Homo sapiens: one gene and its partner. The protein of the gene in region 2 purifies or fractionates together with the protein of the main gene of each other region. This does not show direct contact. Each region holds a gene or a part of one and is shown on either strand. Other genes may lie near its edges. The genes, in order: ATP6AP2 and ATP6AP1.

Evidence for each region.
Region 1: the proteins of ATP6AP1 (region 2) and ATP6AP2 purify together in Homo sapiens (affinity purification with mass spectrometry; 7 studies listed by BioGRID and IntAct, with this or other methods). This does not show direct contact.

Annotation. Positions count from the first base shown.
Region 1 is NC_000023.11:40,597,610-40,605,325, reverse strand, and holds part of ATP6AP2 (renin receptor precursor), read right to left. Parts: coding exon 7,662-7,716; intron 6,646-7,661; coding exon 6,592-6,645; intron 5,735-6,591; coding exon 5,585-5,734; intron 4,565-5,584; coding exon 4,445-4,564; intron 1-4,444. UniProt on the Homo sapiens protein: Multifunctional protein which functions as a renin, prorenin cellular receptor and is involved in the assembly of the lysosomal proton-transporting V-type ATPase (V-ATPase) and the acidification of the endo-lysosomal system.
Region 2 is NC_000023.11:154,423,823-154,431,676, reverse strand, and holds the start of ATP6AP1 (V-type proton ATPase subunit S1 precursor), read right to left. Parts: upstream 3,001-7,854; 5' UTR 2,985-3,000; coding exon 2,824-2,984; intron 2,630-2,823; coding exon 2,503-2,629; intron 1-2,502. UniProt on the Homo sapiens protein: Accessory subunit of the proton-transporting vacuolar (V)-ATPase protein pump, which is required for luminal acidification of secretory vesicles.

The DNA of each region.
Region 1 (7,716 bases), about 110 Mb from region 2:
TTGAAGGTGTGCATATCCTGTGATCCAGTAAGTCCATACGCTAGGGAAAATTTCTATATGTGTACCAAGAGACATGTATAAGAATATCAGCAGCAAGGCTGGGCACAGTGGCTCATGCCTGTAATCTCAGCACTTCGGGAGGCCAAGGCGGGCAGATCACCTGAGGTCAGGAGTTCCAGAGCAGCCTGGCCAACATGGTGAAACCCCGTCTCTACTAAAAATACGAAATTAGCCAGGCGTGGCAGGTGCCTGTAATCCCAGCTACTCGGGAGGCTGAGGCAGGAGAACTGCTTGAACCCAGCAGGTGGAGGTTGCAGTGAGCCAAGACTGTGCCATTGCACTCCAGCCTGAGCAACAAGAGCAAAACTCCGTCTCAAAAAAAAAAAAAAAAAAATCATCAACAGAATGGAATTGTGGTATATCCCTACAAGCAGAATATGTAACAGTAAAATGACTAAACTACAGCTACATTTGTCAGCCTGAGTGAATCTTAAAAAGAATACTGAACAAAGAACACAGAAAAATACATGTAGTATGATTCAATTTATATAAAATTCAAATACAGGCAAAACCAAACAACACTGTTTAAGAACAAATACATATGCAGTCAATCTGTAAAGAAAAGCAAGGGATTAACATGATATCCAGGACAGCAGTTACCTCTGGATGAGGGAGGGTAGAGGGAGAAAATAGGGAGCTTCAAAGAAGCAAGCATTCTCTTAAGCTATTGATATGGTTTGGCTCTGTGTCCCCACCCAAATCTCATCTCGATTTGTAATCCCCACGTGTCGAGAGAGGGACCTGGTGGGAGGTGATTGGATCATGGGGGCAGTTTCCCCCATACTGTTCTCATGATACTGAGTTCTCATGAGCTCTGATGGTTTAAAAGTGTGCCACTTTCTCTCTCTTTTGCCACCTTGTGAAGAAGGTGCCTGCCTCCCCTTCCCCTTCCTCCATGATTGTAAGTTTCCTAAGGCCTCCCCAGCCATGTGGAACTGTGAATCAATCAAACCTGTTTCCTTTATAAATTACCCAGTGTCAGGTAGCTCTTTATAGCCATATGAAAACGGAGCTATACAGTGTTATTATTTTTATTATTTAAATAACTAGTATTAAATATGTTATATACTTATGTATGTATGATCCACTTAACACTTTTTTTTAAAATACAGAGCTGTGTAAAAACATTGTTTGGGAAACTGAATTCATTCTGACAAAGGCACTGTTTGGGAAATATCATTCATTCTGGCTAGAGAATTTTAAAAGTAGGAACACAGCAGGAGATGAAGCTAGAAGCAGGGAAGCTACAGAAAATCTGACATGAGCCTCTGGGCAATAAGGAGCCATTGACAAGCTTTAGGCAGAAAGTGAGTGACATGATCAGGTTTGTCTTAAAAAGATAACATTAAAATTAAAAATTAGCTGAGTGTGGTGGCTCAAGCCTATAGAACTGGCTACTCAGGAGGCTCAGACAGGTGGATCACCTGAGCCCAGGAGTTTGAGGCTACAGTGAGCTATGATTGCGCCACTGCACTCCGGCCTGGGACAGGGCGAGACCCTGTCTCAAAAAAAGAAAAGAAAAAAGATAACTTTGATGACAATGTGTAGGATGGATTTGGGAGGAGCCAGCTGGGAAGCAGAGAGACAGATGAGTTCAGACAAGTTAGGAGGCGGCAGTCAAATGAGGTGGGAGAAATGGGGGCAGGGTGCCTGGCAGTGAGGATGAGAACGAAAATGTAACCGAGATCTATTTGTCCCTACAGCCCCAGCACCTGGAATGTTGTGAGTACTCAGTAAATGTTCCTTAAACTCCTGTCTCCTTAAACTAATGGAAGAGAGTGATTTCAAATGTAGGAGAGAATGGGTACACAGGCATGCATATTTACCTGCGGGGAGCTCAGAGCTGAGGCAAACGTTAAAGGATTTCACGCCCATGAAGACCTCTTTGTTTCTTTCCTTTTTTTTTTTTTGATAAACATGTTCTTTTTCCTACCCATTTTAAGTGTACAAGTCAAGGAATTTTAGTGGTTTCATAGTTATCACCACAATCTAATTCTAGAACATTTCTATCACCCTAAAAAGAAATCTCATAGGCCGGGCATGGTAGCTTACACCTGTAATCCCAGCACTTTGGGAGGCTGAGGTGAGCAAATCACTTGAGGCCAGGAGTTCAAGACCAGCCTGGCCAACATGGTAAAACCCCATCTCTACTAAAAGTACAAAAATTAGCCGGGTGTGGTGGTGCATGCCTGTGATTCCAGCTACTCAGGAGGCTGAGGCAGGAGAATCACTTGAATCTGGGAGGTGGAGGCTGCAGTGAGTTGAGATTGTGCCACTGCACTCCAGTCTGGGTGACAGAGTAAGATCCTATCTCCAAAAAATCCAAAAAAAAAAAAAAAAAAAAAAAAAAAAGAATTCTCTGGGAGGCATCCCCACTCTCAACACATGTGCTGACCACCCAGAGCCCAGGTGCCTTTCTGTTTCCCTGTGCTGGTGGGCAAAAATTTCCAGTCTACCCTCTCACTGAGGGCACAGCTCTCTCGGGGTCCCCAGCTTTATCTGGAGTTGTCCATTCCCATCCCCCACACACAAGGCACCAAAGGACTCTTGGTGACCCAGCTGGCAAATATCCTTAGGGCGGCCTGCTTACCACATTCGGTTTTTTTTTTTTTTTTTGAGATGGAGTCTCACTGTGTCACCCAGGCTGGAGTACAGTGGCACAATCTCAGCTCACTGCAACCTCCGCCTCCCGGGTTCAAGCGATTTGTCTGCCTCAGACTCCTAAGTAGCTGGGACTACAGGCGTGCGCCACCACGCCCGGCTGATTTTTTGTGTTTTTAGTAGAGACGGAGTTTCACCATGTTGGCCAGGCTGGTCTCGAACTCCTAACCTTGTGATCCACCCACCTCGGCCTCCCAAAGTGCTGGGATTACAGGTGTGAGCCACCGCACCCGGCCTCCTCTTCTTTATTTACTCTGTAAGAGAATTTCCCTTTCTTGCGAGCTGAACTATGTATTTTTATTTTTGTAATTTTTTTTTTATTTGAGACGGAGTCTTGCTGTGTCTCCCAGGCTAGAGTGCAGTGGTGCAATCTTGGCTCACTGCAACCTCTGCCTCCCGGGTACAAGCAATTCTCCTGCCTCAGCCTTCCAAGTAGCTGGGATTACAGGTGCCCGCTACCACACCAGGCTAATTTTTGTATTTTTAGTAGAGACGGGGTTTCACCATGTTGCCCAGGCTGGTCTAGAACTCCTGGCCTCAGGTGTTCCGCCCGCCTCAACCTCCCAAAGTGCTGGGATTACAGGCGTGAGCCACCACACCCAGCCCAAACTATGTACTTTTTAAAAGATCTTTATTTTTATCTAGCATTTCTAGACGTTTTATGGTGGGAAATCTTGGGTGGTTGTCTAGACTGACATGCTGTCTGAAACAAAGGTCCTTCCATCCCCAATTTAATTTAGAAAGAAACAATCTCAAACCAGTAATCGCTAGACTATCTCAAACAGGCACTGGCTTCGACCTTCCGACTCCAAGTCCCACACTGACTTCAGTAAAACTGAGCAGGGTGAGGGCTGCAAATGGGTCTGAAGCGGAGGTGTATGTAATTGAGTGGATATCTATCTGCTGCAAGTGATACAGCCAGCCCTAAGCAATGTTCTCAGACGTAGGATGTTAGGGAGCATCTACACTACTCTTTCCCATCACCCTCCCTAGGTTCTGCTGCAGCTGTAAGTATATATGTATGTATGTAAATGTGCACGTACATACACATAAACAGATATGTATTTTACCATGGCCAGCAACCATGGTAATGCTTAACCCTGACCCTCTAAATGCTTAAAATCAAAGCAAGATCCATACCCAAAAAAACTGTTAAGTAAATCAAAATCATAAAGAGGTGCACACAGAGGATCTCAGTAAGTGAGGGACTACGCCACAAAGACAATGTGCCTGCTAGAAAAGCAGAGCCCATAGGATGTGGGCACCACACCACTCCCGCACACATTCACTTCTTTTTGTTTTCAAAACAGGGTCTTGCTATGTTTCCTCAGACTGGCCTCAAACTCCTCCTGAGCTAAAGCAATCCTCCTGCCTTGGCCTCCTGAGAAGCTGCAATTACAGATGCACGCCACTGCACCTGGCGCCACATTAACTTCTGATATCTCCTTGTGTGTACTGATATTTGAATTATAATCTTGGACAGATTTACTTTTATCCCTAATTCAAATTCTTGCATTATCTGATTATAACCCTAAAGAACTGATCATCACTGGCAAAGCACACATATGTATGTGAACAAGAAGCTTACGTTTTAACTGAAATTGTTTTTCAGATTTACTGACTGCTCATTCATGTCACCCTTAGGTGATATAGGACTTGGTTTTTTTTTTTTTATAAGAAGTTAATTTTACAGTTTTAAAGCAGGATCTCAAAATATACTCACCGCTTGTTTTGCCTCAAGGATAGTCCTTGTCTTCCTAATGAGGGAGGTGTCAAATGACTTGACAGTGACTAACTCTACCACTGCATTCCCACCATAAAGACTGTACATGTCATCTGCAAACTGAAAGTTAGTTATTAACATTATTGGGAATCTCAACTATGTACTTTTTTCATTTTTAATTAACAAATTAAAATCATATATATTTATCACATCAACATATTGTTTTGAAATATGTACACATTGTGGAATGGCTTAAGTCCACATTGGCTAATTAACATATGCATTACCTCCTACTTATCATTTTATGCAGTGAGTCAAATACATACTTATTAAAATTATTTTTAAAGCTTTTGTGCAGCTACAAGAACAATGTACACTTACCTCCTGGCTCATGAAATATACTACATCTTACAATAAGCAAGTCTTAAAGGTTTTGATTTTGCTCAACTATACAGAAAAGTGTTAAGCTTTAACATATATTCAAATGTTTAGACTAAAATTACTTTAAGAAGAGACTGAATTTGTCAGCATATAAATTGGAGGAAGGGAAGTTGGAAAGAGAAATGAAATCTTCCTAAGTGGTCTCTGGTTAATCACAAACATCTATAAAGATTAAAATATGAAGCCTCACTGAAAGGATGCAGGTGAAGAACTTCAAGGGCAGAGGGGAACTAGCATTTATTATGCATCTACTGTCTGGTACTGTGCTGGGTGTTCTACTTCAGTTATCTCATAGTGTTTAAGGAGTACAGAGTTTCAGTTGGGGAAGAAGAAAAAGTTCTAGAAATAGAAGATGGTGATGGTTGTACAACATGTGAACGTACTTGCACTTAATACCACTGAACTGTACAATTAAAAATGGTTAAAGTGGTAATTTTATGTTATATATATTTTACCACAATAATTTTGTAAAGCTTTGTGTGAGATAACTTTTCCTAATGCTGTTCTTTCTAGCATTAGGAAGAAATATATCAATATACATTTTTGACCCTACTCCATCCTTGGCCAGTATAATTAGAGGAGCCCCAAAGAAGGCAAATAAGAGTTCAATCAACAGTGTTTGAAACAGCAGATTTTTCTATTAAGAGGCTAAAAGTGAAATGGTCATACTCCAACCTCTCATGTCGCATTGATATTTACCTTTTGCAGAGCGTCAACAAGGATCTTAGAAGCATCTCTGAATTGTTCAGAGTCTTCCCCATAACGCTTCCCAATTTCATCCAAACCTGCCAGCTCCAGTGAATATAAATCAGGAGAATGATCCTTGGCTAGATGCTTATGACGAGACAGCTTAGGAGAACAAACAAACAAAAAAAGGTAGCGGATAAAGTAAGATGAAAGACGTCAAACACAGCCAGTTAAAGTTTTATGCCTAACTAAACTAGGCTAAACTAAACCATACCAGTGTACCACAACATGCAAATAGTCTAAAATGGTGGCAAAAGAAACTGGTTTGAATAAGCGTTTCTGATAAATCCAACACGAATCTCATGTTTAGGAGCAGTACAAGACTCCTTGGATATTTAATAAAAGCTTTCAACAAAATTCCTCAGTTTTAAAAACTCAGGTATGGGCCAACGTATGAAAGAACAGATGGCTGGACCAGTTTGATCCCAGGAATGCACTACACTTCCAGACTCCCCGAACCAACACCTGTTGAAAAAGTTTGGAAAACAACTTCAGAAGGTAGCAAACAGATAAGAATTTCTATTTCAGTAACAAGGATGATTTTTAAAAAATCATTCACCAAAAAAATACCCTTCAGACGGATTTCGTCCCTTCTTGACTTGACTGACAGCATTATTAGTCCAAACTATTATTTCTATTTTAGGCCCAAAGATATAGATAGGAATTAAGTCTCACAAGAAATCAACAGCCAAGTTAGGACTATGGCCAGGGTGTTCTTACGCCCAGGCTTGTGTTCTTGGAAGATATGTTGTCTCTCCCTAAAAAGCAGAAATGCAAAATAATTTGACTATAACATGGATGTGTTCAAAATTCCCAATATTGCCACTAATTTTTCAATTTTCATGGGATCATAAATCTAGGGCATACTTAATCAAACTTTTCAACTGCCTTTACTATTATTCAAGGATTCTCTAGAAACCAAAATAAATGGAATTAAAAAATTAGAGCAGCCTACTTACCAAGCTTGAAATATCATGTAGCACTTGCAGTTCAGAAAGAAAGAGCAGGTCAACCTTCAGAGAGCCCAAAAAAAAAGAGCATTCTTTTAAATGTGCACCAGAGATCTTTATTTGCCATTTACCAAGCAAGGCACAGGATATTACAAATGTTGATCATATAAGTGAATTTATATAATTATCTTCCATTTGGTATGTTTGCTTCAATTGAAAATGCATATAAAACATTATTTCCTAACAAAAAGGTGATGGCCATTCCCTAGCACAGTGACTGCCACTCAATAGCTATATTTTTGGCAAAACCATGATAAAGCATCCAAGTTCTCCAGTGGTTTTCCTTCAAAGCATCAGGATATCCTGGCACTCTGCAATGACATCCTACCATTGGCCCAGTTTGCTCACTTCCCTTGAATAGTTTCCACATCAGAGAATAAAGGATGATGGCCCTGGTCATCCACAGCAAATAAAAAGGGGAGGCCACCACGAAAGTGGCATGCCACATGGTTAAGAGGGCGCATGAGCAGATGGAGAAACTGAAGGACAGGAGTCAAAAGTAGAGGTGGCTCCCTCCACTGCAATGTCCAGAATGAATGAGAAAAATGTGGCAACAAATCAGCAGAGGCAGTGAACAATGGCTTCCAAGTTACCAGATCCACACAGCTCCACCAGTCACCAAGTAGATCTATGACCTCTGGCTTGTTTGAATTAATAGGTGGCAACCCTCGTGCTAAAATGTGATGTTATTTACCACAGCTCAACTCACAAAAAGGATCAGTTTATTCATGAGAGTCATAAGAAAATTACACTAAAGAAGAATCTACCCCAGCAGTAAATGTGCACAATCTTTCATTTTCTAAAATAGCAAAATTTCCAAAATTTCAAGTAGTATAAGGAATGGGAGGCCAGATGCAGTGGCTCAAGCCTGTGATCCCAGCACTTTGGGAGGCCAAGACAGGATTGCTTGAGGCCAGGAGTTCAAGACCAGCCTGGACAACAGAGTGAGACCCTGTCTCTATTTTTTAAAAAGACGGAAATTAATGATATTCATGTATTCATTGAATAACTGCACTTACTTCATTGTTCCTACTCAGAGAATTGAGGGGGAGTGAACTGAGAACAGAGTTTTCT
Region 2 (7,854 bases):
GGTGGGGTGGGAGACTCACCTCTTCCCTCCAGCACTCTCAGGGCAGGGTGAGAAGACATGGAAGGCAGTCATGGGGTGGGGAGATCTGCAGGCAGCTGACTTGTGGTAACTCAGGAGTAGGAGTCAGCCGCCTTGCCCACCCTACAGACAAGAGGAACTGGGGAGGGAACAGGGAAGCTGCGGGGAGGGGGTGGGGCAGCCAAGAGCATTTGTGGCAGGCCTCCCAGCCAGAGAAAAGGAGAGTCGGCTATGTCCAGTCTGGACGGGACCCTCCCCCCACCTGCTTTTGGCGGAAGGGGAGAGGTGAGGATCTCAGAACATGCTGGAGGAAGCATCGAGCATTGAAGTCTTTTGAGCTCTTAGGACCACAGTGGCCCCGACCCCATCCCTTTTTCTCCACAACCTACAGATGTCCTTTGTCCTTTTGCTCCTACCCTCCACTCCCATCCCCAGCTTCCTCTGGCCCTTCCCAGTTAGGCCCTGAGGAGATTTTAATCAGCTTCCCTAACCTGTTTGGTATACACACTCGCCCAGCCTCCCCTCCCTTGTGGGCAGGACCTTGCTGCTGTTTGGCCACCGGGGTTCTCAGTCGGAAAGCCCAGGAACTGCTGGTGGGTCCTGTGGGCTTTCTTTAATTGAGAAATCACACCACTCCCTGCTCCACGTTACCCAAGGCTTTCTCACACATTTCGAACTGCAACTGACCTTCCCCCTCATGGCCTACAAGGTCCTACTTCATCGCCTAGCCACCTGCAAACCATCTCCTACATCTCCTACCCCTTTCTCTCACTCACTGTGCTCCAGCCACACCAGCTCTTCCTTGAGCTGGCCAAGAGCACACCTCGCCCAGGACCCTCGCATTTGCTGTTCCAGGAATGTCCTTCCCCAAACGGCTCCCTCCCTCCATTAAGATCGCTGCTCATATATCACCTCCTCAATGAGGCCTGGCCTGACCACCCTTATCTAAAATAGCATCCCAGTCACTCTGTCCCCTTAGCCTGCTTCCTTCCCTAAAGGCCGTAACACTGACATCATATCCTATACCGACTTAGTATTTACTGGCCACCCTCACAAGAATGTCAGCTTCCTGAGGGTGGGGGCTTGGGTTCTTCTGCTCACTGCCATATCCCCAACACTTCACAATACCTGGCACATAGTAGGCTTTCCATATTGGGCAAATGAATGAATGGGTGAATGCCCTAAGACTGGGGGATCCTGGCTAGATGTTTTATGTGGATTATAAGAATTCCCCCTCACAGGCCGGGCGCGGTGGCTCACGCCTGTAATCCCAGCAGTTTGGGAGGCTGAGGTGGGTGGATCACGAGGTCAGGAGTTCAAGACCAGCCTGGCCAACATGGTGAAACCCCATCTCTACTAAAAATACAAAAAAATACAAAAATTAGCTGGGTGTAGTGGCGGGCGCCCTGTAATCCTAGCTACTCGGGAGGCTGAGGCAGAGAACTGCTTGAACCCGGGAGGCGGAGGGTGCAGTGAGCTGAGCTGACATTGCACCACTGCATTCCAGCCTGGGCAACAGAGCGAGACTCCGTCTCAAAAAAAAAAAAAAAAAAGATTTCCCACTCACAGCCCTCTGATATAGGTGGTGTCTTCATTTTACAGATGTAGAAACTGTCATTCACAAAGATTATTTCATGCCTCCAATGGCTGGTTACATGGTAGAACTAGGACTCAGTTCCTATTTGACTATATTATTTACCACCTCCTGAAAAGACTTCAGGCCACCACCATCTGCCCACACAGCAACCAAGGGAGACTACAAGGGCAATGAGCCATACAGGCCACCAACAAGGGAGGGCCTAGCAGAGACTTGCTATCTTAGAGTCATCTCATGGTCTCCACGCCTGCTTTTGGGGCAAAGATCCTGGATGGGAAGGAAAACAGCATGCGGGTTATGAGCTCCAATTGGGAGGGAGGATTGGCAGACTCAGGCTGGAACCAAAGTGGTATCTATCAACTGTAGTGAAACATTGTATCTCGACAAACCTTACTTTCCTTGGCAGTGAAACCAAGATAATGACATCAGTGTAGCAAGTGCCTACAAAGCACTAAACAGGTGAGCATTTTCCAATTATCATTATTATGATCATCACAGCTAGAATTACAACTCTGCCACCCATTAGCTGTATGAGCTTGGACAAGTCACTTAACCTCCAGCCTCAGTCTTCTCATCTATAAACAAACAGGGACGATAATCCCCACCCACCATATTGGACTAAGTCAGATATCCAAAGTGCTTGGTACTCAGTAGGTACCTGGCCTCTGGTCCGTCGCTTCCTCCAATCAAGTTGGTGCCATTTCCGAGGCTGTCGCCATGCCCACTGAAGCGTTTACTACAGGCCTTCCCATGAGACGACCCACACCTCCCTACAGTTGGGACAAGGTCACTGAAGCTTCCCTTGGGGAATGGGCGTCAGTGTCATGGGGGGAGGGGGCCTGGCTGCCTCCCGATGACCGGGGGAGAGTGGGCTGGGGCGGGCGCACCTTGTCCTGCAGGAACAGCAGCACATTCCTGGGACCCAGCTCCAGGGCGGGATCTAAGTAGGTAGAGAGCTGCAAGTCGCTGGTGATGTGGCCTTCATGAGTGTCGGCCGCAGGAGCCCACAAGTCCCTGGCAGGGCACAGAAGAGGTGCTGTCAGACGGGGGCGCATGTGGACTGGAGCTCTGTCGCCGGCAGATTCGCTGCGAGCCCCCGAGCAAGGAACAGTCCACCTCCGGGCCTCACCACCCCTCGCCTAGGACAGCGCCGGAGTCGGGCGAGGGCGCCTCAGCCGCCACAGCGCATCCCACCCCGGCCCGCTCACCGGTCACTCGACCACAGCACCAGCGGGACCTGCTGCTCCGCCGCTGCCGCCGCCGCCGCCGCCGCCAACGACAAAAACACCGGCAGCCACGGCATGCGCCAGAGCGCCTGGGCGCACCGCGGCCCCATCCGCACTCGAGCCGTCGCCATGGCCGCCATCATAGCCTCAGCCTCCACTGCCTCAGCGGCCTCGACAGCCGCAGATCAGGTGACCGTTGCCCCCGCCCGAGCCCCGCCTCGCACCTCCATTGGCCCCAGCGCGGGCCGACCGGCAGGGCCGCAGGTAATTGGACCAAGTGCATGCCACTCGCGGCCACTCCTTCTCACTGGTTGGCTGTACGTGTCTCCAGGCGCTCACGCTCCGAGTGGGAAAGGGGATGGGGCCCAGCTAGACCGACTAGGACGAGACAAGAGGGACAGGGAGGCTTCGCGGAACCCTACGCCCACCCGACGCGTTCGCCCGTCCGTTTTTATTTTTATTTTTATTTTGGTTTTTTTGTTGTTGTTCTCTTCTTTTGTCTTTTTTTTTTCTTTAGAGACGGGGTCTAGCTATGTTGGCCAGGCTGGTCTCGAGTCCCCGGGCTCAAGCGATCCTCCCGCCTCAGCCTCCGGAAAAGTGGGACTACAGGCGCGCATCGCCGCACCCGGCCAATCCCTGTTTTAATCCTTTTCCTTAAAATTGCAAAAGTGGTGTCTTTTTCCTGCAGATGGACCCTCCCTGATACAGGTGAGAGGAGACTGTAATCCCTTAGAACGAGGAGTGAAGCGGGCTCAGGATAGCATCTAGGGGAACACCCAGCACTTACATTGGGCAGGAGGAGAAGGGTCCAGAAAAGAGATCGGACAAGGAGCAATCAAAGAGGAAGGAGAAAACCCAGAGCGAAGCGTGGCATCAAAGACACCCTAACGGGCCGGGCGCTGTGGCTCACGCCTGTAATCCCAGCACTTTGGGAGCCCGAGGCGGGCGAATCATGAGGTCAAGAGATCGAGACCATCCTGCACAACATGGTGAAACCCCATCTCTACTGAAAATACAAAAATTAGCTGGGCATGGTGGTGCACACCTGTAGTCCCAGTTACACGGGAGGCTGAGGCAGGAGAATCACTTGAACCCGCGAGGCGGAGGTTGCAGTGGGCCGAGATCGCGCCACTGCACTCCATCCTGGGCGACAGAGTGAGAGTCCATCTCAAAAAAAAAAAAAAAAAAAGATTGTAGTCATGATTGTCACATGTGATTCAGACTAGGACTAGGATAGTGGCAGTTGAGCTGGAGAGAGGAAGTGGGTCTGACAATACAGTCAAAGAAGATTGTAGCTTTTGGGTCTCTCTGAGTTGGGGACTGGGAGACGAGGTCACTTGGGGGCTCACTGAGTTTCGGGTGCTTAGGGAAACCCCCAAGTGGCCATTTCCAGGCCTTAACTAGCTGAGGAGAGAGGTTTTCACTGGAGCTTCACTGTATCCCAGGAGAATCCAGCAAACTTAAAAAGGAAAGCATGTCTATTATGTTTCTGTTACTTTTGTTACATAGTTTCAAGGCAAATACTTCCTCTGGAATGCGGAAGGCAATCTTGCCTCCGCCAGGACTCTGTTGCTGAGCTGCTTCCATGCTTAGGGAAGAAACCCACCTGTGGCTGCTTTTATTCTTCCCTGCATTGCTAGGGGTCCCTGGAGTGATGGCCCTGGAGGCTTCCTGAAGCACCTGCTATGGGCCAGGCACCTGGACTCTGCCCCGGAAGTTGACAGTTTGGTCTAGAGGACATGCAGGACAGCAGGTCATGATACAGGGTCATGAATATTCCAAAGGTTGAGACATGGGACTGGGAGGGATGTAAGGAGAGGGGCACCGATGAAGCTGCTCCCACCAGGAGGTGATATCTAAACTGAACCAATCACCAAATGTTGACAGCACCAATGAGCACCTTCTGTCTGGGGACTTCATCTTTAGGGTAAAAGCATTTTGTTCATTGAAATCCTGGCTGGGCGTGGTGGCTCACGCCTGTAATCCCAACACTGGGAGGCTGAGGCGGGCAGATAACCTGAGGTCAAGAGTTTGAGACCAGCCTAGCAAACATGGCAAAACCCCGTCTCTACTAAAAATACAAAAATTAGCTGGGCGTGGTGGCGGGCACCTGTAGTCCCAGCTACTCAGGAGGCTGAGACAGGACAATTGCTTGAACCTGGGAGGCGGAGGTTGCAGTGAGCCGAGATCGTGCCATTGCACTCCAGCCTGAGCAACAAGAGCGAAACTCCATCTCAAAAAAAAGAAAAAAAAAAAGGGCCGGGCACTTTGGCTCATGCCTGTAATCCCAGCACTTTGGGAGGCCGAGGCGGGCGGATCACGAGGTCAGGAGATCAAGACCATCCTGGCTAACACGGTGAAACCCCATCTCTACTAAAAATATGAAAAATTAGCCAGGCGTGGTGGCGGGCGCCTGTAGTCCCAGCTACTCGGGAGGCTGAGGCAGGAGAATGGCGTGAACCCGGGAGATGGGGCTTGCAGTGAGCCGAGATCGTGCCACTGCACTCCAGCCTGGGCGACAGAGCAAGACTCTGTCTCAAAAAAAAAAAAAAAAAGCACTTCTATGGTGAAACGTAACCCAAAAAAGAAAAGAAGTAGGCCAGGCGCATTGGCTCACGCCTGTAATCCCAGCACTTTGGGAGGCCAAGGCGGGCGGATCACCTGAGGGCAGGAGTTCGAGACCAGCCTGGCCAACATGGTGAAACCCCGTCTCTATTAAAAATACAAGATAATTAGCCGGGCATGGTGGCATGCGCCTGTAATCCCAGCTACTCGGGAGGCTGAGGCAGGAGAATCGCTTGAACCCAGGAGGCAGAGGTTGCAGTGACCAGAGATCATGCCATTGTACTCCATCCAGCCTGGGTGACAGAGCGAAACTCTGTCTCAAAAAAAAAAAAAAAAAAAAAAACCCACAAAATAAAGATGTACAGTGTAATGCTTATCAAAGCAGACAGTTCCATGGCATCACCCAGGTCAAGAATTTGAATATCATTGCCCTGAAAGCCCCTCTCATACCCTTACTATCACTTCCCAATGTGACCATGAACTTGATTCTTTTGCTAATCACTTTGGTCTTTATAGTTTGACCAGTTAAGCATGCATTCCTAAAAATGATGGGATGTGTTGTTTTGGCTGTTTTGAGGCTTTAAATAAAGGAAATTATTCAGTATAATATTTTTCCCTCCTCCACTCTTTTTTTTTTTTTTTTTTTTGGAGACAGAGTTTGGCTCTTGTTGCCCAGGCTGGAGTGCAATAGCGCCATCTCGGGTCACTGCAACCTTCGGATTCAAGCAATTCTCCTGCCTCAGCCTCCCGAGTAGCTGGGATTACAGGCATGTGCCACCACGCCCGGCTAATTTTTTGTATTTAGTAGAGACGGGATTTCACCATGTTGGTCAGGCTGGTCTTGAACTCCTAACCTCAGGTGACCCACCCACCTTGGCCTCCCAAAGTGCTGAGATTACAGGTGTGAGTCACCGCACTCAGCCTTCTCCTCCACTCTGAAGGGAAGTATTATTTTGTGTCTAGATTCTTTGCTCAACATTGGCAGATTAATTCAAGTGGCTGCATGTAACAATGTTGCTGCATAGTATTCCCCTGGATGAATACGTCACCATTGATTGTGTCCTTCAACTGTTGACATTTGGTTGGTTTCCCATTTGGGCTGTTATGGCTAATGCTGCTGTGAACAATTATGTATACGTCTTTCTTTTTCTTCTTTTTTTTTTTTTTTTTGAGACGGAGTCTCGCTCTGTCACCTAGGCTGGAGTGCAGTGGCGTGATCTCAGCTCACTGCAAGCTCCGCCTTCCGGGTTCACGCCAGTCTCCTGCCTCAGCCCCCTGAGTAGCTGGGACTACAGGTGCCCACCCCCATGCCCAGCTAATTTTTTGTATTTTTAGTAGAGACGGGGTTTCACTGTGTTAGCCAGGATGGTCTCTATCTCCTGACCTCAAGATCTGCCCGCCTCGGCCTGAGTGCTTGGATTATGGGCGTGAGCCACTGCGCCCAGCCGATGTATGTGTCTTTTGTTAAACATAGATGTTCATTTCAATAGGTATATAACTAGGTGGGGAATTGCTAGGTCATAGAGTATATGCACTGGGTTGAGTAGTGTCCCCATAAAAGTCATTGCAGACAGAATCAAGTTAAGGTGAGGTTATACTGCATAAGGGTGACCCCTAGTTCAATCAATGCATGGTGTTTTTAAAGGAGGAGAAAAAGAGACAGACACAGGGAGGAGAGCACTGCACGCAGCTGAAGGCAGAGATTGGAATGACACCTCTGCAAGCCAAGGAACACGGAGCATTGCTGGGAACCACCGGAAGAAGCCAGAAGACAGGCCTGGAGCTGGCTTTCCCTCACAGCCCCAGAAGGAACCCACCCTGGTGCCACCTTGATTTCGGACTTCTGGCCTTCAGAACTGGGAGAGAATAAATTTCTGTTGCTTTAAACTTCCCAGTCTCTGGCACTTTGTTACTGCAGCCACAGGAAACCCATACCATGCACACTCTGCCTTTTGTGTTTCCTCTTCTGTGAAATGCCTTTTTTTTTTTTTTTTTTGAGACGGAATTTCGCTCTTGTTGTCCAGGCTGGAGTGCAATGGCACAATCTTGGCTCACTGAAGCCTCTGCTTCCCGGGTTTCAGTGATTCTCCCGCCTCAGCCTCCTGAGTAGCTGGGATTACAGGCACCCACCAACATGCCCAGCTAATTTTTTTTTTTTTTTTTGTAGAGATGGGGGTTTCACCATGTTGTCCAGGCTGGTCTCAAACTCCTGGCCTCAGGTGATCCGCTCACCTCGGCCTCCCAAAGTGCTGGGATTACAGGTGTGAGCCACCACGCCCGGCCTTAACCACTTTTAACTGTACAGTTCAGTGGCATTAAGTACGTTCACACTGTTGTACAGTCATCACCACCATCCATCTTCAGAACTCTTTTCATCTTCCCAAACTAAAGCTCTGTCCCCATTATACAATTTCTCATTCCCCCATCCTCCCAGGCCCTGGAAACCAA